Linked DNA regions of Homo sapiens: region 2 is linked to region 1. The links come from fine-mapping of genetic effects on gene expression. A gene starts in region 1. The other region holds a variant in brackets. All regions are shown on one strand. Distances are between the middles of the regions.

Region 1 (11,205 bases):
CTACCTGGGGGCTGGGAAGCAGGACCCCAGGCTGAGTCCTGCCTTTTGGTAGTGCCCCGCCCCGGCCAATGCGGCTGTTATATCAAAGTACATAAAAGTGAAGGCAAAGGGTGTCCACGTGGGATAGACTGGCATAGCTTCCTGGCCACCCATGGTGCTCCATTATCTCTTCGAGGACCCCTTCTCCACGAGACCCTCCAGGTCTGGTCCTCTATCGTCCAGCCCCCATTCTCTTCTCCATCACTGCTGCTGTGTCCCAGATGACCTTAATTTAATCTTCACATATTTGAAGGACAGAATCATCGGCCTCACCCACTAATTATTATTATTATTATTTTATTTTATTATTATTATTTTTTGAGACGGAGTCTCGTTCTGTCACCCAGGCTGGAGTGCATCACTGCAAGCTCCGCCTCCCAGGTTCACGCCATTCTCCTGTCTCAGCCTCCCGAGTAGCTGGGACTACAGGCGTCCGCCACCACGCCTGGCTAATTTGTTGTATTTTTAGTAGAGACGGGGTTTCACCGTGTTAGCCAGGATGGTCTCGATCTCCTGACCTCGTGATCTGCCCGCCTCGGCCTCCCAAAGTGCTGGGATTACAGGCATGAGCCACCGCGCCAGGCCTAGACCCACTAATTATCTTTTATGGCACAAACTCTATGTTTTACTTTTGCCCAGGCTGGAATACAATAGCGGCATGATCTCCGCTCACCACAACCTAGCCTCCTGGGCTCAAGTGATCCTCCCACCTCAACTTCCCAAGTAGCTGGGAGTACAGGCATGCGCCACCACACTTGGCTAATTTTAAAATGTTTTGTAGAGAAGGGTCTCACTAGGTTGCCCAGACTGGTCTTGGACTCCTAGACCCAAGCTATCCTCCCACCTTAGCCTCCCAAAGTGCTGGGATTACAGGAATGAGCCACTACATCTGACCTCCTTTGCTTCTTTTAAAGACATAGTTTGGAATTTTTTTTTTTTTTTTTTTTTTTGAGACAGAGTCTCACTCTGTCGCCCAGGCTGGAGTGCAGTGGCGCCATCTCGGCTCACTGCAAGCTCCGCCTCCTGGGTTCACGCCATCCTTCTGCCTCAGCCTCCCGAGTAGCTGGGACTACAGGCGCCCGCCCCACACCTGGCTAATTTTTTGTATTTTTAGTAGAGACGGGGTTTCACCGTGTTAGCCAGGATGGTCTCAATCTCCTGACCTTGTGATCCGCCCATCTCGGCCTCCTAAAGTGCTGGGATTACAGGCGTGAGCCATCGTGAGCAGCCTTTTTTTGAGGAGTCTCCAACTGTCACCCAGGCTGGAGTGCAGTGGTGCCATCTCGGCTCACTGCAAGCTCTGCCTCCCGAGTTAACGCCATTCTCCTGCCTCAGCCTTCCGAGTAGCTGGAACTACAGGCACCCGCCACCACGCCCAGCTAGTTTTTTGTATTTTTAGTAGAGACGGGGTTTCACCGTGTTAGTCAGGATGGCCTCGATCTCCTGACCTCATGATCTGCCTGCCTCAGCCTCCCAAAGTGCTGAGATTACAGGCGTGAGCCACTGCACCCGGCCTGGAAGTTATTTTTTAAAAATCAATTGTTTCTTTCTCTGTCATCCCAGCAGGAGTGCACAGGCATGACCTCAGCTCACTGCAACCTCCACTTCCTGGGTTCAAGCGATCCTCCTGCCTCAGTCTCCCAAGTAGCTGGGACTATAGGCACATGCCACCACATCTGGCTAATTTTTTTTCTTTCAGATGGAGTCTTGCTCTGTCCCTCAGGCTGGAGTGCAGTGGTGCAATCTCAGCTCACTGCAACCTCCAACTCCTGTGTTCAAGTGATTCTCCTGCCTCAGCCTCCTGAATAGCTGGGATTACAGGTGTGTGCCACCACGCCGGGGTAATTTTTGTGTCTTTAGTAGAGACAGGGTTTCCCCATGTTGGCCAGGCTAGTGTCAAACTCCTGACTTCAGGTGATCTGCCCGCCTCAGCCTCCCAAAGTGTTGAGATTACAGGCATGAGCCACCACGCCTGGCCAAACCACCCTAATTTCTACCAGCCAGATGCAGATCCTTAAAACAACCCTAGGAGGTATTTCAACCATTATTCCCTTTTAATATCTGAGGAAATGGAGGCACAAAGAGGCTAAATCTCTGGTCTGGGCAGCCTGGCACCAAGGCCCTGTACCTAAATGGTTTATTCAAACATAGAAGCCCTATCTCCTTGATCTATGCTCTTTTCACTATTTCTGGCAGGTTTCTTACCAAATATCTGGAGTTGACAACAAATGTGAAAACTGAACAGCCTTTTCTGACAGGCAAGGAAGACCAAACTGCCAATTGCCAATGTCAGATGTTCTCAAAGTATGGTCCAGAGACTTCTGGGAGTCCCTGAGACACTTTCAGTGGGTCTACAAGTTCAAAACTATTTTCATAATAAAACTAAGATACCAATTGACTTCTCTTGCATTGTTTCTCAAGTATATAGTGGAGTATTCAAAATACTATATTATATGTGACATCACAACAGCATGAATGCAGAAGCAGATATGAGAATCTAGTTTTTTTGTGTGTCTTTGAGACAAGGTCTCCCTCTGTCACTGAAGCCAGAGTGCAGTGGCACCATCACGGCTCACTGCAGCCTCAAACTCCTGGGCTTAAGCAATCCTCCCACCTCAGCCTCCCAAGTAGCTGGGAATATAGGTGTGTGCCACCATGCCTGGCTAATTTTATTTTTTAAGAGATGGAGGTAGGCCAGGCACAGTGGCTCACGCCTGTAATCCCAGCACTTTGGGAGGCCGAGGCGGGTGGATCACGAGGTCAGGATATCAAGACCATCCTGGCTAACACGGTGAAACCCCGTCTCTACTAAAAATACAAAAAATTAGCCGGGCGTGGTGGCAGGTGCCTGTAGTCCCAGCTACTCGGGAGGCTGAGGCAGAAGAGTGGCGTGAACCCGGGAGGTGGAGCTTGCAGTGAGCCGAGATGGCGCCACTGCACTCCGGCCTGGGCCACAGAGCGAGACTCCGTCTCAAAAAAAAAAAGAGATGGAGGTCTAGGCAGGGCTTGGTAGCTCACGTCTGTAATCCCAGCACTTTGGGAGGCCGAGGCGGATGGATCACCTGAGGTCATGAGTTCAAGACCAGCCTGACCAACATGGAGAAACCCCGTCTCTACTAAAAACACAAAATCAGCCATGCACGGTGGTGCATGCCTGTAATCCCAGCTACTCGGGAGGCTGAGGCAGGAGAATTGCTTGAACCCAGGAGGCGGAGGTTACGGTGAGCTGAGATTGCGCCACTGCACTCCAGCCTGAGCAACAGAGAGAGACTATGTCTCAAAAAAAAAAAGTGCACACCTCTCTGGTTTTTAGTATGTTTATTACGTTACGCAGCCATCATCACTACTTCATTCCAAAATATTTAATATTTCCATCACCCCCAAAAGAAACTCGTTATATCTATTGCTGTAGTGCCAGCTCCTCAGCCCCTCACCATCCCCTGGCAACCACTACTTAGATGTCCTTTTTATGTCTATGGGTTTTTTACTGTAATTTTTAAATTCATTAATGTCAACTTTAATTTAGTTTCACTTCACACACAGTATATACGGCCAGGCCTGGTGGTTCACACCTGTAATCCCAGCACTTTGGGAGGCCAAGGCGGGTGGATCACTTGAGGTCAGGAGTTTGAGACCAGCCTGGCCAACATGGTGAAACCCTGTCTCCATAAAAATACAAAAATTAGCTGAGCGTGGTGGTGCACACCTGTAATCCCAGCTACTCGGGAGGCTGAGGCAGGAGAATCACTTGAACCCAAGAGGCAGAGGTTGGAGTGAACCGAGATTGAGCCACTGCACTCTAGCCTGGGAGATGGAAGTGAAACCCCGTCTCAAAAACAAAAAAACAAAAACCCTCATATACACAAAACATCTTTGGAGGCCTCATTTTTAAAAACTGTAGTGGGATCCCAAGGCAAAACGTTTCAGAAACACTGATCTAAGATTTGTGTTTTTTGTTTTGAGACGGAGTCTCACTCTGGCGCCGTGGCTGGAGTGCGGTGGCACCATCTCGGCTCATTGCAACCTACACCTCCCGGGTTCAAGCGATTCTCCTGCCTCAGCCTCCCGAGTAGCTAGGACTACAGGCGTGCCACCATCCCCGGCTAATTTTTGTGTTTTTAGTAGAGACGGGGTTTCGCCATGTTGGCCAGGCTGGTCTCGAGCTCCTCACCTCAGGTGAGCCTCCCGCCTCAGCCTCCCAAAGTGCTGGGATTACAGGACTGAGCCACCGCGCCCGGCCCGTGTTTTGTTTTGTTGTTCAACAGGGTGGAACATAATGTCTAAACCTGGGCCCTACCTACCTGGTGCTCAAAAGTGGAATGACCGTCCCTAGCCAACCCTTCAGAAAGGACAGAGAGCTACTCAACGGACTGCTGTACTCTTAAGGACTGGGAACCGGAACCGTGGGTGAGTGGGACTGAATCACAGACTAAGCGTTTTCCACGCTTCGCCGACGTGCTGAGTGCCAAGTTATAAAGACAGGAACATCCAAGCTGCTCTCCTGGGCTGACACGGACGCGAGGGGACCTACAGTGGCCTTGGGCCCAGCAGGCAGCGACTGCAACGTGACTGCCCAGAGTCCAGCCCCTGGGGCCCAGATCTACAGAACCGACCAGACGTGATAGCCCTTTGGCTGGGGCTGCAGTCCCACGATCCACACAACGACCCTGGCTCCGCAGACGCGCCAACCACCCACGGAGGCAAGAAACTGCAGAAAGTAAAGGGAAAGGGAGCCCAGTGCCGGGCGGCGCTGAGCAGCTCCCCCAGCGGCCACCGTCGCCAACATCCCTGCGTAGGGGTTTGTATCGCAGCGCGCTTCCAGACATCAACGGCTGCGCGGCCCACGCGCGCGCATGCGTCCTGACCAGGGGAACCTTTTCTTGGGGACCCGGAGGCGAGCGCTGGAAGGCGGGATAGTGGCGACCCACACGCAGCAGCTTCCGGCGGCGCGTAGTCTTGATTGGTGGAACCTGGGAGAGGGGGCGGGGCACCGGGGAATTCGAATGGGAGAGGCGGGCCCAAGGAGGGAGTGGAATGGCCGCGGGCGGCTCGACGCAGCAGAGGCGACGCGAGATGGCGGCAGCTTCAGCGGCGGCGATCTCAGGTACTTGAGCCCGGCCTGGGCAAGGCGGGTACCGACGTCTGGAGTTTAGTGGGAGTTATGTGTCGGAGTGTGGTCCAGGCTCTGCGGGTTGTCGCGGAGAGGCGGCCATGGCGCAGGGGCGGGGAGAGGGGGACGGTGAGAGTGTGGGGTCGCGAGCCGGTCGCCCCGCCTGGCTCCTGCCTTCTCCCTGTTTCCTGCTCTCCCCTTGGGTCAGTAGACTCGGGTCTCCGGTCCAGGCTCTTGGCTTGAACCCCGCGCACTTTTTCTTTGTGAGCTTCGGTTTCTTCGTCTGTGAAACGGGGGTCATGGCCTCATCCCTGGAGATCACCTGAATAAGCAAGAGAAGAGTGGCGGACGCTCTAGCCACGAGGACGAGAAGAAGGGAGCCGGAGGCGTGTATTGGGAAGGGTTCTGTGTGGGACATGGTGTTTGGGTGCAGAGACATCCCTGAGAGATGCAAGAGGACGGGCTGAGGAACAGACCCGGCTGCTGCTGGGTTTGAGTTGGCAGCGTAAGATGCTCTGCGATTACAGGAAAACGAAATAAAAGACTAAAATTTCCTTTCACTCTAGCATGGAAGTGAATGCTATTTTAGGGTTGGAAAGGCTGTTAGGACACCCAAAATCTTGTATGTGAGTATTTGTTTACATGTGCCTCTCTAACCCGGAGACTTAATCCTCGTTAGTGATGATGGTGAGCGCCATAGTAATTCACTGGAGCCCTCGTTAGCCTCGTGGGGAAACAGACATTTAGGAGAATGCCTAACACATGTAGAGCTCTTGCTATGTGCCAGGCACAGTTGTAGGCATTTTATGGTGGTGAACCATTTATTGTCCACACAATGCTATCAGGTTGTTACTATTACTGTCTTTGTTTTACACAGGAAACTGAGGTTAGTTTGTTCAGAGTTAACACAACTAGTAAATATTGGGGCTTGAATTCGCTCTCAAGGAGTCTGAGTGTAGAACCTCTGCTCTTAACCATTATGCCCAAGTACATGTTATCCCTGCTGGCTGAGCACAGTCTCCCCTTACCCTTCGAAGATGCACTGTGTCCGGTGCATGGTAGATATGAAAATGCCTGAATGAATAATGTCCCTTCCTCGAGGAATTTACAGTCTGTTTCAATAGAGTGTCACATACGTAGATGTAATACGAAACACAATGAGAGATGTGTATAAACTGAGGGTGTGGAATCTGAAGTAAGCCCTTGAGTATTCTGGGAGGACTTCATTAAGGGAGTGAATGATACTTGAGATGGGTTTCAAAGGTTGGATAGGAGTTTGCCAGGCCTTGACTAAGAAGACAAGAACAGCAAGTGTTTTCTTATTTATGATGTAAGATGCTCTCTTAGCTCAATTTCCTCATCAATAAAAGGGAGAAGAGTGAATGAAATTTAGGAATTGTGAAAGAAGGGAAAATTAATAATTGCTAGCCTGGTCCAAGCTCAAGGTTGCTTTTATCATGAAAGGGCTAGACTCTTGTGCAGTAAATAATTGTTTACATGTGGCCCTCCCCTCTTCCCTCCTACCCTGGACTGTGAGCCCTGGGGCAGGAATGGCCGTGAGCCATTTTCATGATGGAAATGAACAAGCCAGTGATTAGTAGTTTATTCACTAAATCTTAATTTTTTTCAGCAAATACTTCTTGAGGGCCTACTCTGCGCCAGGTGTTGGGGTTAGAAAGGTGAGCAGGATAAAACTTGTTCTCACAGTTGGCAGTCAGGTGGAGAAAGTGACAAACACGCAATAGTGGGGTGTGACAAATGCTTATGGAGGGGCTAACATGAGCTGTGGTTGCACCTGATAAAGCCTTAGTGTCTACCAGGAAAGGGTTTTTGGTTTTGTTTTTTAAGAGGAGTTAAAATGTGTTTACCTTAGTCACTCCAGGGTGGGGTGGGGAGCAATGCAGATATTCTAGGGAGAGAGATTAACGTGGACAAAAATCCAAAGGTGCAAGAGAACTTGGAGTTTTGTAGGAAGTGAAGGAAATTCATCATGACTGGTAACTTACACTGCAAGGAAGGAAACAGAGGGAATGACTAGAGGGCAGGGAGACACCTTGCTACCACCAGCAAGGAAGGCTGTAAAGACCATGACCTTGGGCAGAGGTAGTGCAGTGGGAGTGGAGAGAAGTGGACTTGTTCAAGAGAGATTTAAAGAGATAGACTTGACAGATGTTAATGATGAACTGATGTGGGAGGTAAGAGACGTTGGAGTTAAAGACTCCCACTTTTGGGGTTGGTGCCATTCATTTACATCAGAGATCAAAGGAGGAGGCTGCAGAGAGATGGGGAAGGAGGGTTCAGTTTAGGACAGGTGGAGTTTAAGAGGAGCCGTCGGCTGGGCTCACGCCTGTAATCCCAGCATTTTGGGAGACCAAGGTGGGTGGATCACGAGGTCAAGAGATCGAGACCATCTTGGCCAACATGGTGAAACCCTGTCTCTAAAATTAATCAAAAATTAGCTGGGCGTGGTGGCGTGCACCTGTAGTCCCAGCTATTCGGGAGGCTGAGGCAGGAGAATCGCTTGAACCGGGAGGCGGAGATTGCAGTGAGCCAAGAGCGCCACTGCACTCCAGCCTGGCGACAGTGAGATTCTGTCTCAAAAAAAAGGAGCCGTCAGGGCAGCCGTTCAGAACGTGGGCTGCAGTTGAGAGCTCTTGTGCAGAACGTGCAATAGGACTTATCAGCTGTAAGATGTTACTGAAGCCAAGAGGGCGGGTGACCTGCCTATGAAATGAATCTGAGTGGTCTCAGCTCGGGGCAACTTTGTCCCTCACAGGACATTTGGAGATGTCTGGAGAGATTTTTAGTTGTTACAACTTGAGGGTGAGGGTGGAGAATGCTACTGGCATCTAGTAAGCATATGCTAACAGTCTAAATGCACAGGACAGCCCCACAACGGAATTAGCCAGCCCGAAATGTCAGTAGTGCTGAAGTTGAGAAATGCTGGTCTAGAGAAAGGATAGACGGATCCTAGGATGAGGAGTGAACAGAAAACTAGGTAAGACAACCAGGAAGGTGGGGGGCATGGAAATGAAGGGAAAAGTGTGTTTCCCAAGAGTGTCGCATACTTCTGGGAGGTCCAACAGGATTGAGGCTGAGTATGCCTACTGGATCTAGCACTAGGGAAGTCATGGGTGACCCTGCTGAATAGTGAGGGCAGAAGCAAGTTGCAGGGATGGAGGAGTGGGTAGCAAGAGAAAGGGTGTAATAATAACAGCTAAGGACTGAGCAGTTGCTGCCAGGCACTGTGCTAAACATTGTATGTACATTATTACTTTGAATCCTCACATTCTTATGAGATGCAAAGATGAAGGGGCTAAGGAGGCTGAGGAGGGTTCATATAAAGCACTTTGGAGTTAGATCTTCATTTGAAGCTGTCAGTCACTAGCTGTTGACCCTGGGTCAGTCAGCTAACCCCTCTATACTGAGGTTTCCTCATCTGGAAAATGGGAGACGGACATTAAAAAGCACTTACTGGCCTTTCACCAAATACCAGATAATGTTCTAAGCACTTTTACATGAATCACCTTAATTACTCTCCTAACAACCTAACAAAGAGGTATTTTTATTCCCATTTTGCAGGTAAGGAAATTGAGGCACTGGGATGGAAAATAATTTCCCTAGGTTACTTAGCTAGCTGTAAATGGCAGAGCTGGGATTTCAACCCAGGCCATTTTACCTTGAATGATGAACCTACCTACTATGTGCTAGTCACTGTGCTGCCACTTTATCTGGCACTTATTTCAATTATCTTTTTTTTTTCTGAGACACAGTCTTGCTCTGTCACCCAGGCTGGAGTGCAGTGGCGCAATCTCTGCTCACTGCAACCTCCACTTCCCGCATTCAAGCAATTCTTGTGCCTCAGCCTCCCAAGTAGCTGGGATTACAGGCGTCCACCACCATACCTGACTAATTTTTGTATTTTTAGTAGAGGCAGGGTTTCACCACCACGCTGGTCTCGAACTCCTGACCTCAGGTGATCTGCCCACCTTGGCCTCCCAAAGCGCTGGGATTACAGGCATGAACCACTGCGCCCGGCCAAATTCTCAAAAAGCCCAAGGCCCACCCCCAACCTTATTTTACAGACAAGGAAACCAAGGTCCAAGGTCACAAGCTAATAAATGTCAGAGCTGGAATTGAAGTCCACTTCTGTCTGACCAGAGTCTACACTCTACCTCATTACTGACTTCCCCTTCCCCTTAGATTGATCACTGCGCTTCCTTAAGTGCTTCTACATCTGCCATCTTTCTGTTCTCCCAAAACATCCTGTGAAAGCAGGCAGAGGAAGGTCCTGCACATATTTTTGACAAGTCAGTGCACCTCAGTTTTCTATCTGCACACATGCATCTGCAGGTTTTTACCTGCTTGCTCCTGACTTTCAGGATTGCCATGAGGAACAAATGAGAACTAGATGTCCAAGCGCTTTGCTACCATAACGTGAGAAATGGTATTAGTAGCCCCATTTATCAGATGATGGAATGGAGGTTCAGTTTTTGAAACAGCCCGTCTGCTTATGGGCATGCCTTACTTAGGTGTAAGATTCTTTGTAGGGGTCATCTGTCTGCCTTTTCGTCTTGCTGTTTCTGTGTTGGCTACGTATACCAGCCAGCCTTTTGCCTTCTGCGAGGCCTATGGCTCCTAGCAACCAGCTGCTACCACCAGCAAGGAAGGGAAAGAGCTGCCAGGAGCTTTCCCAGTTGGTACATAATAAGGAAGCAATACAGCATCCTATTAAAAGCAGATTTTTAGAGGGGAAGAGATCTAGGTTTGAATTCCACTATGAGCTACAGTATGTTATCCTCCAACGTAAAATAGAGTAATACTCTCCTTAGATATTTTCAGCTCATTTAACCCCCACAAAAATAGAGGGCTTTTCTTTTTTTAAGTTTTATCTTCATTGTGTTTTCTGATGATAAAAATAATTCAGTTGCCAATTCTAAAACAAAACAAAACAAAAAAAACTTAATCATCTGAAGCAAATTCAGGGTTAAGTTTACATGAGAGAAGAATTGCATGTCGGTGGTTTTTGCAGAACCCACATAATTCCCCATCAAGAGAAGATCATCATTAACAGTTTGCAGGGGTGGGTGGGTCTGTGAGTATACATACGTCTCAATACATATTAGAAACCCCAGTTAAGAAATGGAGGTACAGGCTGGGCAGGGTGGCTCACACCTATAATCCTAGCACTTTGGGAGGCCAAGGCAGGCAGATCACTTGAGGTCAGGAATTTGAGACCAGCCTGGCCAACATGGTGAAACCCTGTTTCTACTGAAGATACAAAAACTAGCCAGGAGTGGTGTTGGGGACCTGTAATCCCAGCTACTCGAGAGGCTGAGGTGGGAGGATCGCTTGAACCTGGGAGGTGGAGGTTGCAGTGAGCTGAGATCATGCCACTGCACTCCAGCCTGGGTGACAGAGCAAGACTGTCTCAAAAAAAAAAAAAAAAACACACACACACACACACACAGAAAATTCTGGCAGTTCGCTCTCTGGTTTAGGTTTCGGTCAGATGTCAACCCTTTTAATCCTTAGAACAACCCTGTGAGGTGCTGGTCTACTTCACCCTTGGCAATTCAAAACATGTCCTGGGCCAGGCATGGTGGCTCCTGCCTATAATTCCAGCACTTTGGGAGGCTGAGGTAGGAGGATCGCTGGAGCCCAGGAGTTGAAGACAAGCCTGGGTAACCTAGTGAGACTCCATCCCTCTCTCTCTCTTTTTTTTTTTTAAGTGCCCAGCATCACCTGGGAGCTTGTTAGAAATGCAAAATCTCGGGCATCACCCCAGGGAGACGGAGACCAAATCCACATTTTCACAAGATCCTCCAGGTTATTTGTGTATACATTACAGTCTGAGAAGCCTGCTATACACCTGCTGCACTTGCTTGTAGAGCAGGGAAGGCACTGAGGCCAAGCTTAGGGGTGTCCACAACATGACCAGGGCAGAATGAGCTTCTCCAACATGAGCTGTGGCCCCCAGCCCGCCCAGCAAAGTTGGTCCCTGCTTCTTCTGCTACCACCATACTTCATGTCTAAAAGTGATCTTCTCTCCTCCA
Region 2 (11,205 bases), 180 kb after region 1:
GCAGGGCTTGCAGTAAACATTCTCCTGCCTCAGCCTCCTGAGTAGCTGGGATTACAGGTGCTCGCCATCACGCTCACCTAATTCCCGCCCCCCAGCCCAAGGAGTCTTGCTCTGTCACCCAGACTGGAGGGCAGTGATGCGATCTCAGCTCACTGAACCTCTGCCTCCCAGTTTCAGGAGATTCTCCTGCCTCAGTCTCCCAAGTAGCTGGGATTACAGGCATGTGGCACCATGCCCAGCTAATTTTTGTATTTTTAGTAGAGATGGGGTTTCACCATGTTGGCCAGGCTGGTCTTGAACTCCTGACCTCATGATCCGCCCGCCTTGGCCTCCCAAAGTGCTGGGATTACAGGTGTGAGCCACTGCGCCTGGCCAATTTTTGTATTTTTTATAGAGATGTGGTCTCACTATGTTGCCCAGGCTAGTTTCAAACTACTGGGCTCAAGTGATCCTCCTGCCTCACCTCCCAAAGTGCTGGGATTACAGGCATGAGCTACCGGGTCTGGCGTATTACCCAATTGTTTTATTTACTTTCTCTTGATTGCTAGTAAGGTTGAGCCTCTTATGGTTTATTGTCTGTATTCATGTTGCCTGTGAATTACCTGTTTGTTTCCTTTGTTCCTTTTTCTTTTAAGTTATTTGTCTTTTTCTTCTTGATTTGTAGGTCTTTATTCTAGATAGTAAACCTTTTGTCATTTAAATATATTATAGGTATTTTCAATATGTTACTTGTTTTTTTAACTTATCTTTCATTGCATAGAAGTCTTTAATTTTTATGAGGTTAGGTTTATCACTCTTGTCCTTTATTAAAACTTTTAGGTTTTGTGTCTTTCATAGGAAGCCCTTCCTCATTTTAAAATTAGAAAATATTCTGGCCAGGCGTGGTGGCTCATTCCTATAATCCCAGCCTTTGGAAGGCTGAGGCAGGTGGATCACCTGAGGTCAGGAGTTCAAGACTGGCCTGGCCAACATGATGAAACCCCGTCTCTACTAAAAATACAAAAAATTAGCCAGGCATGGTCGTGGGCACCTGTAATCCCAGCTACTCACAAGGCTGAGGCAGGAGAATTGCTTAAACCTAGGAGGTGGAGGTTGCAGTGAGCTGAGATTGCACCACTGCACTCCAGCCTGGGCAACAAGAGTGAAACTCTGTCTCAAAAATAATAAAATAAAATAAAATAAAATAAAATATTCTGTATTTTCTTTAAATACTTAAGTTTTTTTTTAGTTTGTATAGTTCTTTAATACATCTGAACTTTATTTTATAAGATAACAGTTTGACGCTATGTTTTTTTCTACATGGAAATTTTCCCAAGGCCATTTACTGAGGCCATCCTTTCCCCACTAATTTAAAATAGGGTGAGAACCTTTTAATGGATTTTGGTACCAAGTGAGAAACTGCTTTCTTAAAAAGAATGAACTAGTTTATGCAAACTGACATGGGCAATGTGTATCTGCCCATTTCACTGCAGCCTTGCGAGTATTAGTATGGTTGTTGTATTGATTGTAATTTAAGTTAATTTAAATTACAACTTAATTTGTGTTTATATTGATACAAAGTTATTTTCATTTCTCAGTGATATAAATAATGGTATATGGAATACTTTATTGAATAGAATCAATGCCAAAACACCTGGTATTATAGAAAGCCTTAAAAAATGACTAGGGGCAGGCGTGGTGGTTCATGCCTGGAATCCCAACATTTTGGGAGGTCAGGGTAGCAGGATGGCTTGAGCCCAGGAGTTTGAGTCCAGCCCGGGCAATACAGTGATACCCTGTCTCTACAAAAAAATTTTTTTAAATTAGCCAGGTAGGTGGCACACACTTGTAGCCCTGCCTACTCAGGAGACTGAGGTGGGAGGATCACTTGAGCCTAGGAGGTTGAGGCTCCCGTGAGCTGGGATCGTGCCACTGCACTCCAACCTGCACGACAAAGTGAGACCCCATCTCAAAAAAATAAAGAAAGAAAGAAAATACAAGAAAAGGGCCGGGCACGGTGGCTCACGCCTGTAATCCCAGCACTTTGGGAGGCCAAGGCGGGCGGATCACGAGGTCAGGAGATCAAGACCATCCTGGCTACCACAGTGAAACCCCGTCTCTACTAAAAATACAAAAAATTAGCTGGGCCTGGTGGTGGGCACCTGTAGTCCCAGCTACTCGGGAGACTGAGGCAGGAGAATGGTGTGAACCCGGGAGGCGGAGCTTGCAGTGAGCCGAGATTGCGCCACTGCACTCCAGCCTGGGTGATAGAGCGAGACTCCGCCTCAAAAAAAAAAAAAGAAAATACAAGAAAAGAAGCGTGAAGACAGAGGCTCCCGCGTCACCTCTCATTTTCTTCCATTTTCTCTTCTGTGCCTTTCACAGGATCTTCTGCAGGACAACTGGTCCTTATCACAGCCAGGGTGACCACAGAAAGGACTGCAGGAACCTGCCTATATTTTAGTGCTGTTCCAGGAATCCTACCCTCCAGCCAGCCACCCATATCCTGCTCAGAGGAGGGGGCTGGAAATGCCACCCTGAGCCCTAGAATGGGTGAGGAATGTGTTAGTGTCTGGAGCCATGAAGGCCTTGTGCTGACCAAGCTGCTCACCTCGGTAAGAGCCTCAGATGGGTCGCCAGGGTTTTGTAGACTGCCTGCTGACTACTGTATCTTGAAGGTCCCTGGAAACAATTCTACCTTGTAGAAAAAGCACAGGTTTTATAACCCTGCCTTGGGGGCTGTGTGACGTAGAACAAGTGTCTAAACATCTCTGAGTGTCAGCATCCTCATCTGTAAAACAGAAAACATGACCCTATCTCTTAATTCCATCAAATAAGGATTAAATGAGAATGACCGTGAAGTGCCCAGCACATTGCCTGGGACATAGAGATTTGATAAGTGACAGCTATTGTTGTTTACTATTGTCTTTAAAACATTCTCTCTACTTCAAAGGAGTTCAGAAGCTATAATAAGAGGCAAATGGGCTAATTGCTATTAGAGAGATGTGAGCAAAGTGTTATGCAAACACAGAGAAAGGAGCCATTAACCCTAACTTGAACATTTATGGAGAGTGCATCACAGAGAAGGTGGCATTTACCAGAGAGCATTGTGCACAGTGGTTTATAATGCACAAAGTGCTCTCAGGGTTCATTAATTCATTTGATCTTAAAATAGCCTTTTGAGGTAGGTGTTATTATCCCATTTTACAGATGAGGAAACAGGTTTAGAGAAAGGGAGTGAATTGCTGCAGGCCACACAACTGGTTAAGTGGCAGAGCCAGGGTTGCAACCCACACCTTCTGTCAAGTCAGAATGATCCTTGAAGAATGAGGAAGATTTGGACAGGGACTGCAGTAGAGGAGGTTCAGGAGAGGGGGAGGTACACTCCAGGCAAAGGCACCAGCATGCGCACAGGCCTAGAGATTGAAAAGTGTTCAGCCAGGTGTCACATCTGTAATCCCAGCACTTTGGAAGGCCGAAGCAAGGAGAATGCCTGAGGCCAGGAGTTCCAGACCAGCCTGGAGAACATAGCAAGACCTCGTTTCTTTTTCGCTTTTTTTTTTTTTTTTTTTTTTGAGACGGAGTCTCACTCTGTTACCCAGGCTGGGGTGCAGTGGCACAATCTCGGCTCACTGCAAGCTCCACCTCACAGGTTCATGCCATTCTCCTGCCTCAGGCTCCCGAGTAGCTGGGACTACAGGCGCCTGCCACCATGCCCGGCTAATTTTTGTATTTTTAGTAGAGACAGGGTTTCACCTTGTTAGCCAGGATGATCTCAATCTCCTGACCTCGTGATCCACCCACCTCAGCCTCCCAAAGTGCTGGGATTACAGGTGTGAGCCACTGCGCCTGGCGACCCCATTTCTTAAAAAAAACATTTTTTTTTTTAATTAGCAGGGTGTGGTGGTACACACCTATAGTCCCAGCTACTCAGGAGGCTGAGGTGGGAGGATCCTTTGATCCCAGGAGTTTGAGGCTGCAGTGAGCCATGATTGTGCCACTGCACTCCAGCCTGGTTGCCAGAGTGAGACCCTGTCTCAAGAAGGAAAAAAAAAGAAAGTGTTCAGCCTTTGGGAGCACTCCATGTTGAGAGGCTTAGGAAGGAGAAAAGGCAAGAGAGACCACAGGGATTTGATGGAGAGGCTCTGTGAATGCAGGATAGAGGGCTATGACCTGATGCTGAAGGCCGTGGGGGCCACTGAGGAGTTTTAAGGAGGAGAGAGATGTGCTTCCCTGGTGCTGGGTGGAGAATGGCTGAGTGGAGGAGGGCCATCAGTCAGGAGGCTGCTGCACACTCCACTCTCACATTTGAAAATACCCCATGAGGCACGGTGGCTCACGCCTGTAATCCCAGCACTTTGGGAGGCCAAGGCCGGTGGATCACTTGAGGTCAGGACCAGCCTGGCCAACATGGTGAAACCCCATCTCTACTAAAAATTTAAAAATTAGCTGGATGTTGTGGCGGGCGTCTGTGATCCCAGCTACTCAGGAGGCTGAGGCAGGAGAATCTCTGGAACCTGGGAGGCAGAGGTTGTAGTGAGCTGAGATCATGCCACTGCACTCCAGCCTGGGCAACAGAGTGAGACTCCGTCTCAAATAAAGAAAAAAAGAAAAGACCCCATGAGGAGCACAACCTGGGACTTGGAATCAGAGATCTGGTTTCCAGATCTAGCACTGCTTGCACTTTTTTTTTTTTTTTTTTTGAGATGGAGTCTTGCTCTATCGCCCAGGCGGGAGTGCAGTGGCGCAATCTCAGCTTACTGCAAGCTCCGCCTCCCAGGTTCACGCCATTCTCCTGCCTCAGCCTCCCAAGTAGCTGGGACTACAGGCGCCCGCCACCATGCCCGGCTAAGTTTTTGTATTTTTAGTAGAGATGGGGTTTCACTGTGTTAGCCAGGATGGTCTCAATCTCCTGACCTCGTGATCCACCCACCTCGGCCTCTCAAAGTGCTGGGATTACAGGTGTGAGCCACCGCACCCAGCCACTTATACATCTTTAAACTGTGGATCATAATGAAGTTTCCTATCTCATGGAGTTATGATGGGGTTTCAGGTTGATAATTGGGCAAGAAAGTAGTTTTTAAACCATCAAGACAAATGTTCGAGCCTGGGCAACATGGTGAAACCCCATCTCTACAAAAAAACACACAAAAAATTAGCTGGGCGTGGTGGCACACACCTGTGGTCCCAGCTACTCAGGAGGCTGAGGTGGGAAGATCGCTGGAGCCCAGGAGGCGGAGGTTGCAGTGAGCCGAGATTGCACTACTGCACTCCAGCCTGAGTTACAGAGTGAGACCCTGCCTCAAAAAGAAAAAAAAAAAAAAGGGCCAGGCGCGGTGTTTCACGCCTGTAATCCCAGCACTTTGGGAGGCCGAGGTGGGCGGATCATGAGGTCAGGAGATCAAGACCATCCTGGCTAACACGGTGAAACCCCGTCTCTACTAAAAATACAAAAAATGAGCCAGGCGTGGTGGCGGGCACCTGTAGTCCCAGCTACTTGGGAGGCTGAGGCAGGAGAATGGCGTGAACCCAGGAGGCGGAGCTTGCAGTGAGCTGAGATCGCGCCACTGCACTCTAGCCTGGGCGACAGAGCAAGACTCCATCTCAAAAAAAAAAAAAAAAGACAAATGTCAGCTTATATGAAAATAACATTTTCCCTTCAGTTGCTCCCTAGATGTGGAGAGCCCTCTCCCTCATGGAGGCTCCTTCTATAGCCCTTGGACTGGATTAACATGTCCTCCTCCTCCTCTCCCTGTACCCCTCCCTAGGAGGAGCTGGCTCTGTGTGGCTCCAGGCTGCTGGTCTTGGGCTCCTTCCTGCTTCTCTTCTGTGGCCTTCTCTGCTGTGTCACTGCTATGTGCTTCCACCCGCGCCGGGAGTCCCACTGGTCTAGAACCCGGCTCTGAGGGCACTGGCCTAGTTCCCGACTTGTTTCTCAGGTGAGGTTCTTTGCTCCAGTCCTGCGGGAGCAGGGAATGGGGTGGGGGTGGGGGTTGTAACCGGGGTAGAGCAGATCCTTGGACTTTTCCTCAAAGACTGCTGCTTCTGAGTCCCCGAGAACCTCTTCAACCACAGCTCTCCCTTAGGGACTGGGAACAATTTGACACCGTCAGCATTCAATATTTTTCTAATTACTTTAACTTTTTTATTATAAAATAGTTAACACTTATGTAGAAAAGTCCAATAGTATAAAAGGACAGCTTGGCAAATTATTATAAAGTGGATACTTATAAATACCACTGAGTAGAATATTACCAGCTGTCCAGAAACCCCCCATGGTCCCTTCCTTCCTGACAATGCCCTCTCTCTCCCTAGAAATTACTGTCCTGCTTTATAATGTATTGCCATGTATGTATTCCTAAATAATATAGTTTGGTTTTACTTATTTTTGAAACTATGTAGACAGAATCATACACATTCTTTTGTGGCTGACTTCTTTCAAGCAACATTGTGATTTTAAGACTCATAACTAGTTCACATCCAAGCATTTGGGTAACAATGGTGAGTTAAGAGGGTTCACATTTGATGATTTGTCCTGAATATGAACCATGTTTGTCTTGCTTTTGTCCTGAAATTCCAATACCCAGTTTTATGATGGAAATTTTGTAAAATTCAACTTGAACCGCTCAGAAGAGTCTAACTGATGATACTCATTTACTGGGGACATAGTATGTGCCCAAGAACTTGACATGCACCTTCTGTCTTCCATTTAGTCATCGTTACCTTTAGAAAAAGCTGATTCCGTTAACAAGATCTTTGGAGGGAATCAGCTTCACAAACGTAGCAGTGGGTGGGGGTCATGTTGGTTAACCAGTTCACACATCAGCTCACTAAAGGAAAAAATATTTCTGCAAAAAATCTTCACTTGTCAGAGGGGGGTGCATGAAATTTGAGAGCCATGTGTTATGCATCCAGCTCTTGAACTGGTCTCAGCTTCAGCTGGCTGCAGTGCCCTAGGAAGTTACTATGGGAA[A/G]AGTGGAAATAGTTGAGGCCCAGGGAACTGATCAGGCCAGAGGAAGTGGAAGCTCAAGATCAACTGTGCTTATTTTGCTGATGGCTGGGCCTAAATGCCCCAACCACCTACTTGGGACAGGAAATGACAGGACCCTCTCAACCTTGGACTGGGAAAGGAGGGCTTCCTGGCCCCTGACAGACCCTGGGGTCCTGAGGCTACCTTAGTTGGGATTAAATGCCCGTATTGGTCTCTAGCTGTCACTCCCTCTGCTCCTTCCTCAATTTCTGCACACATCTCAGAGCTTCCTCTAGCAGCTCTTCGACCTGTTTTGTTGTTTTATTTTCTTTCTCCCCAGGTGTGAATCAACTTCTTGGGCCTTGGCTCTGAGTTGGAAAAGGTTTTAGAAAAAGTGAAGAGCTGGAATGTGGGGGAAAATAAAAAGCTTTTTTGCCCAGTGGCGTGTATGGTGTTTATTGGGGGTTGGATTGAGGTGGGGATTTTAGGGTAGGCAGGCTTAGAAGTTTTGGGGGACTCTTTCCTGTTGACTCTCTAGTTTGGACACAGGTTGGCATAGGGCATAGGTTACTTGAGCTCTCCCCATGGTTGACTTGGCTTTGGTAAACACCTGTCTTGTTTTCTTCTACGAAATAAAATGGATAATTACAGTTAGTTGGGCGGGTGGGGTGTCAGGTCATGGAAATGCTGTGACATAAATGCACTGTGACCTTGGCAAGTCTTGCAACCTGCAGCGCCTCAATTTCCGTAAGAGATTTGACCGATTGAGTTTTCCCAGCGTCGACGCGCAAAGATTCCTCGCACTTGGAGGCCCTTTTCCAGGTTAGATGGTTGCTAACCTCGGAGCAGTCTATTTTCCCGCCTTTTCCGCGCCCAGCAGCAGCTTCCTTTGCCCCTCCCAACTTCCACCCTGCGCGCAGTCGCAGATCGCCGCTGCTGTCCGTCCACCCGCGCCCCCTCAAAGCTTCCCCTAGCAACAAGCTCGGGCTCAGAGCGAAGGCGGGGCGAGCGCATGCGCTGCAGCTCTGTCCACCGCCAGTCGTGGGACAGAGTGCCGGGCTCCTCCCCTTGCAAGTCTAGCTCTTCTCCCCGCCTCCTCCGGCCTGGGGTCCGCGTGGCGGGGCGGGCGCGCACTCGGGCTTGGCGGCTGCCGGTCTCCCAGGCCGCGGCAGTGAGGAGAGAGGGCGGGGCTGAGTCCTCTGCGCCCCCGCCCCCTTTAGCCCGGCGTCCCTACCGCGCCTGCGCGCTCCCGCCCGGTCTCCATCTTGGAATTGGGAGGAAGAGGGAGAGGGAGACCGGGACGAGACCGGGGCTGTGGTGCGGAGAGAGGCTGAGACGGAGAAGAGGAGAGGCAGAGAGGGCGCGGGGACCGTCAGCAGCACCTTAGCTACAATCGTTCAGCTATTCTCGGAAGAGAGAAGGGAGAGGGAGGAGGCCGGGGCGGGAGTGGGGGCTGTCACCCTCGGACCCCGGCGTGAGAGGGGCCGTGCGGCCGGACGTCCTCGGGGTGGGCCCCCAGTCGGTGGCCGAAGACCTACAGCTCAGGCCCCTGGGTCCCAAATTTCCAGGCTTTGCCCCTCCTCCTTTCTCAGATACCCGGGTAACAGTCCTCATAGTCCAGATATCCGGGACTCGGGTCCCAACCTCTCTAAACCTGGGTCTCTGTTTCATAGAATTTCAAATATCAGGTTCAGGCCCCTGCGTGCACCAGTATCCGGGGTTCATTCCCCGGGCGTTCAAATATCGGATTCAGTCTCCATCCCGTTCAGATATTCGGGGTTCAGACCCCACAATCAGAAATCCGGAATTCGGCAGCTGTCGCCCTCGACGAGGGGGAGGACTGGACCGCGAGGTCAGATTAGGTTGTCACCCCCTCCCCTCCAGGGGAGGCTTCCCGGGCCCGCCCCTCAGGAAGGGCGAAAGCCGAGGAAGAGGTGGCAAGGGGAAAGGTCTCCTTGCCCCTCTCCCTGCTTGGCAGAGCCGCTGGAGGACCCCAGGCGGAAGCGGAGGCGCTGGGGCACCATAGTGACCCCTACCAGGTGAGACACGGGGTGCAGGGGCGCGGGTCCCTGTGTCTAGTTCTGAGAAGAAAGGGTGCGCCTTTCTGAGAAGCTGGACTTGGGTAGGCCCTCTCAGGATGGGGAAGCCCAGCTGAGCGAGTGGTCAGCCTCTGGCTAGCCTTGCCTTCTGTTGCCACCCCCTTCCCCTTCCTCTTCCCTTCATTGTGTCTGGTTGGTGGGGGACCTCAGGTGACAGGGTCTCTGATGTCACCGGCGTTCACACCCTAGGGTGCTTCAGCTAATCAGATGGATTTGCACTTCAGTCTTCTCTCCTTCACTTTGCCCCTCACAGCCACCTCTCCTCCCTGATATGTCCCGTTCTCCTGGCTATTCTGTGGTTTTGATTCCCATGCCTCTGATTCCCATGGTGGGTCTGCTTATCTGCTTTTCAGGCCTGGTCTGGTTGGATTTCTTGTCCTTGCAAGGAAGTGTGTGTATATGTGTTTGTGTGTATGCGTGTGTGTGTGTGCTTGGAGGTGCCTGGCAATGTTTTCCCCCAGCTGCAGTTACCTTCCAACCTCTTGCTGTGATGGTGTCAATAATCTCATCCATTTGTCAAACGATCTGTCTTTTACAAAGTGCTTTGACAGCCATTCTCTCATGTGACATCCCCGCATTCACCCTGTGGGGGCCTCTTTTATTGGCATCTTCCCATTTTACAGTTGAGAACGTTGAGGCCGAGAGAGGTTGCCCAAGGTCACACAGTGGCAGAACCAGAATTTGAACTCAAGTCCTCAATCACATCTTTCCCTGATGCATGCCTGGTTCTTGCCATCTCTTTTCCTCTGAGTTTGGGCTCGGCCAGGGGTCCCTAGGAGTCCAGGCTGGGGTGAGGTTTAAGAATGGGGATGAGATGAGCTTCCTTTCCAGGAGGGCTCTACTCAGAAGCTTTTCCTGATGGGAGCCTCTGGCTTTTGCCTCTGCCTCATGGAGTTTTCTATCCACTGTGACCTTCATCTTTACCCCAATCCCAGGGTTTGGCCTGGATTCCTGAGAGGGCTCTCTCCTGACAAATGGTAGCACTAGTGGCATCTTTTAACTGTTCAAGCCAAGCTGTTGGGGTAGAATGATCCCCCAAAGGATTAAAGCTTTGTGGGGACCTTGGAGGCAGGGAAGGAAAAATCCATATGCTGAGTGTCTGCATGGTGTTCCTAAGTATGAGATCTCATTAAAATCTTAACAACAGCTCCATGCTGTAATCCATTTCACTGAAGAGAAGACCAAGAACTGGAAGGAACTTATTTAAAGCCCTGTTGCTGTACATTGCAGACGGGATGTACTGGTAGCATAGCTTAGGAACAGATAGATACGGGTTTCCTCATCTGTAGAATGGAGATAACATTGTTCGTTTTGGAAGGTGGTTATGATTTAGCACAGACCTTGGTTATTGTTCAAGTGTTTGTTGTTATTATGGGGAAGGGGACCTGCATGATGTTTTGCCAGTGGGTGGCACCCCTCCGTGTGGCCTAGGTTAGCATTCTGGGGCCTTGTGTTGGTAAAGAGGTCAGGAAGATTCCTTTGGCAAGTTGAGAGCACCTGCCTTTGTGTGTGGGTGTGTGGTGCTGGTGAGGGGTGCTTGGCACTGTTGCTGGCAGAAGGGAGAAAAGGGCCGGCTTTGAGCAACCTGCGAGCTGCTGAGGGCTGAGCAGAGAGCAATCACTCAGTCTCCCAGGCTATTCTGAGCCCTCTGCACCCTGGGGGCCCACTGGAGAGTCAGGCTCCCTCCTTGCCCTCCAGCTTCCAGTTGGGCTGAGACAAAATTAACAACACAACAGGAAACAATGCATGACAGAATAAATTACATGCTAAAATTGTTAGGTGCTTTTGAGTAGCTAGAACTCTGCCCCAGGAGTCCAGCTCTGCTGAAGGCTCCTTTGTGCCTAAATTCTGACAAGTGCTTAGGCTGGAGCCTGTCTTGGAATCTCCTTGAGGGTTTTGGTTCTGGTATCCTGCAGGAACTTTCTCCGGGTGTTTGGTTGGGTGCCCTAGGTGCTCTTCCCAATGGCTGGAGTGGTCAGGACAGGCTTCCTGCAAGAGGGGAGCTGAGCTTGGGGTGACAGCTGAGAGAGTAATGGATACAGGCCTAACCGGGGAGCCGAAGGTCCTGTTCTCTGACCTTGGAGAAGTCCTTTTTCTTCTCTGTGCCTCAGTGACCTCACCTAGGAAATGGTGATCATGATTCTGCCCTGCCTGTTT

Evidence for each region. PIP is the estimated chance that this variant, and not a neighbour inherited with it, causes the effect.
Region 2: its variant is fine-mapped to the expression of KIF22 in tibial artery (GTEx, PIP 0.99).

What each region holds. Positions count from the first base shown.
Region 1 is chr16:29,785,687-29,796,891 of GRCh38, forward strand. It overlaps KIF22 (kinesin family member 22), which reads left to right and starts at 5,065. Exons shown (of 14, transcript NM_007317.3): 1 at 5,065-5,143. The coding sequence starts at 5,074. It overlaps LOC105371167 (a long non-coding RNA gene), which reads left to right and starts at 1,827. Exons shown (of 2, transcript XR_950983.1): 1 at 1,827-1,860; 2 at 2,236-2,437. RefSeq lists an enhancer at 4,476-4,875.
Region 2 is chr16:29,965,661-29,976,865 of GRCh38, forward strand. TMEM219 (transmembrane protein 219) reads left to right here. Exons shown (of 6, transcript NM_001083613.2): 4 at 2,365-2,594; 5 at 5,748-5,918; 6 at 7,290-7,388. The coding sequence ends at 5,885. TAOK2 (TAO kinase 2) reads left to right here and starts at 8,208. Exons shown (of 16, transcript NM_016151.4): 1 at 8,208-8,988. It overlaps LOC124903762, which reads left to right and starts at 7,962. Exons shown (of 2, transcript XM_047435036.1): 1 at 7,962-8,120; 2 at 8,337-8,975. The coding sequence starts at 7,962. The coding sequence ends at 8,975. RefSeq lists a silencer at 7,898-8,267 and enhancers at 8,691-9,462, 9,169-9,298, 10,100-10,601, 10,602-11,101. The variant A/G (reference allele first, on the strand shown) is at 6,953.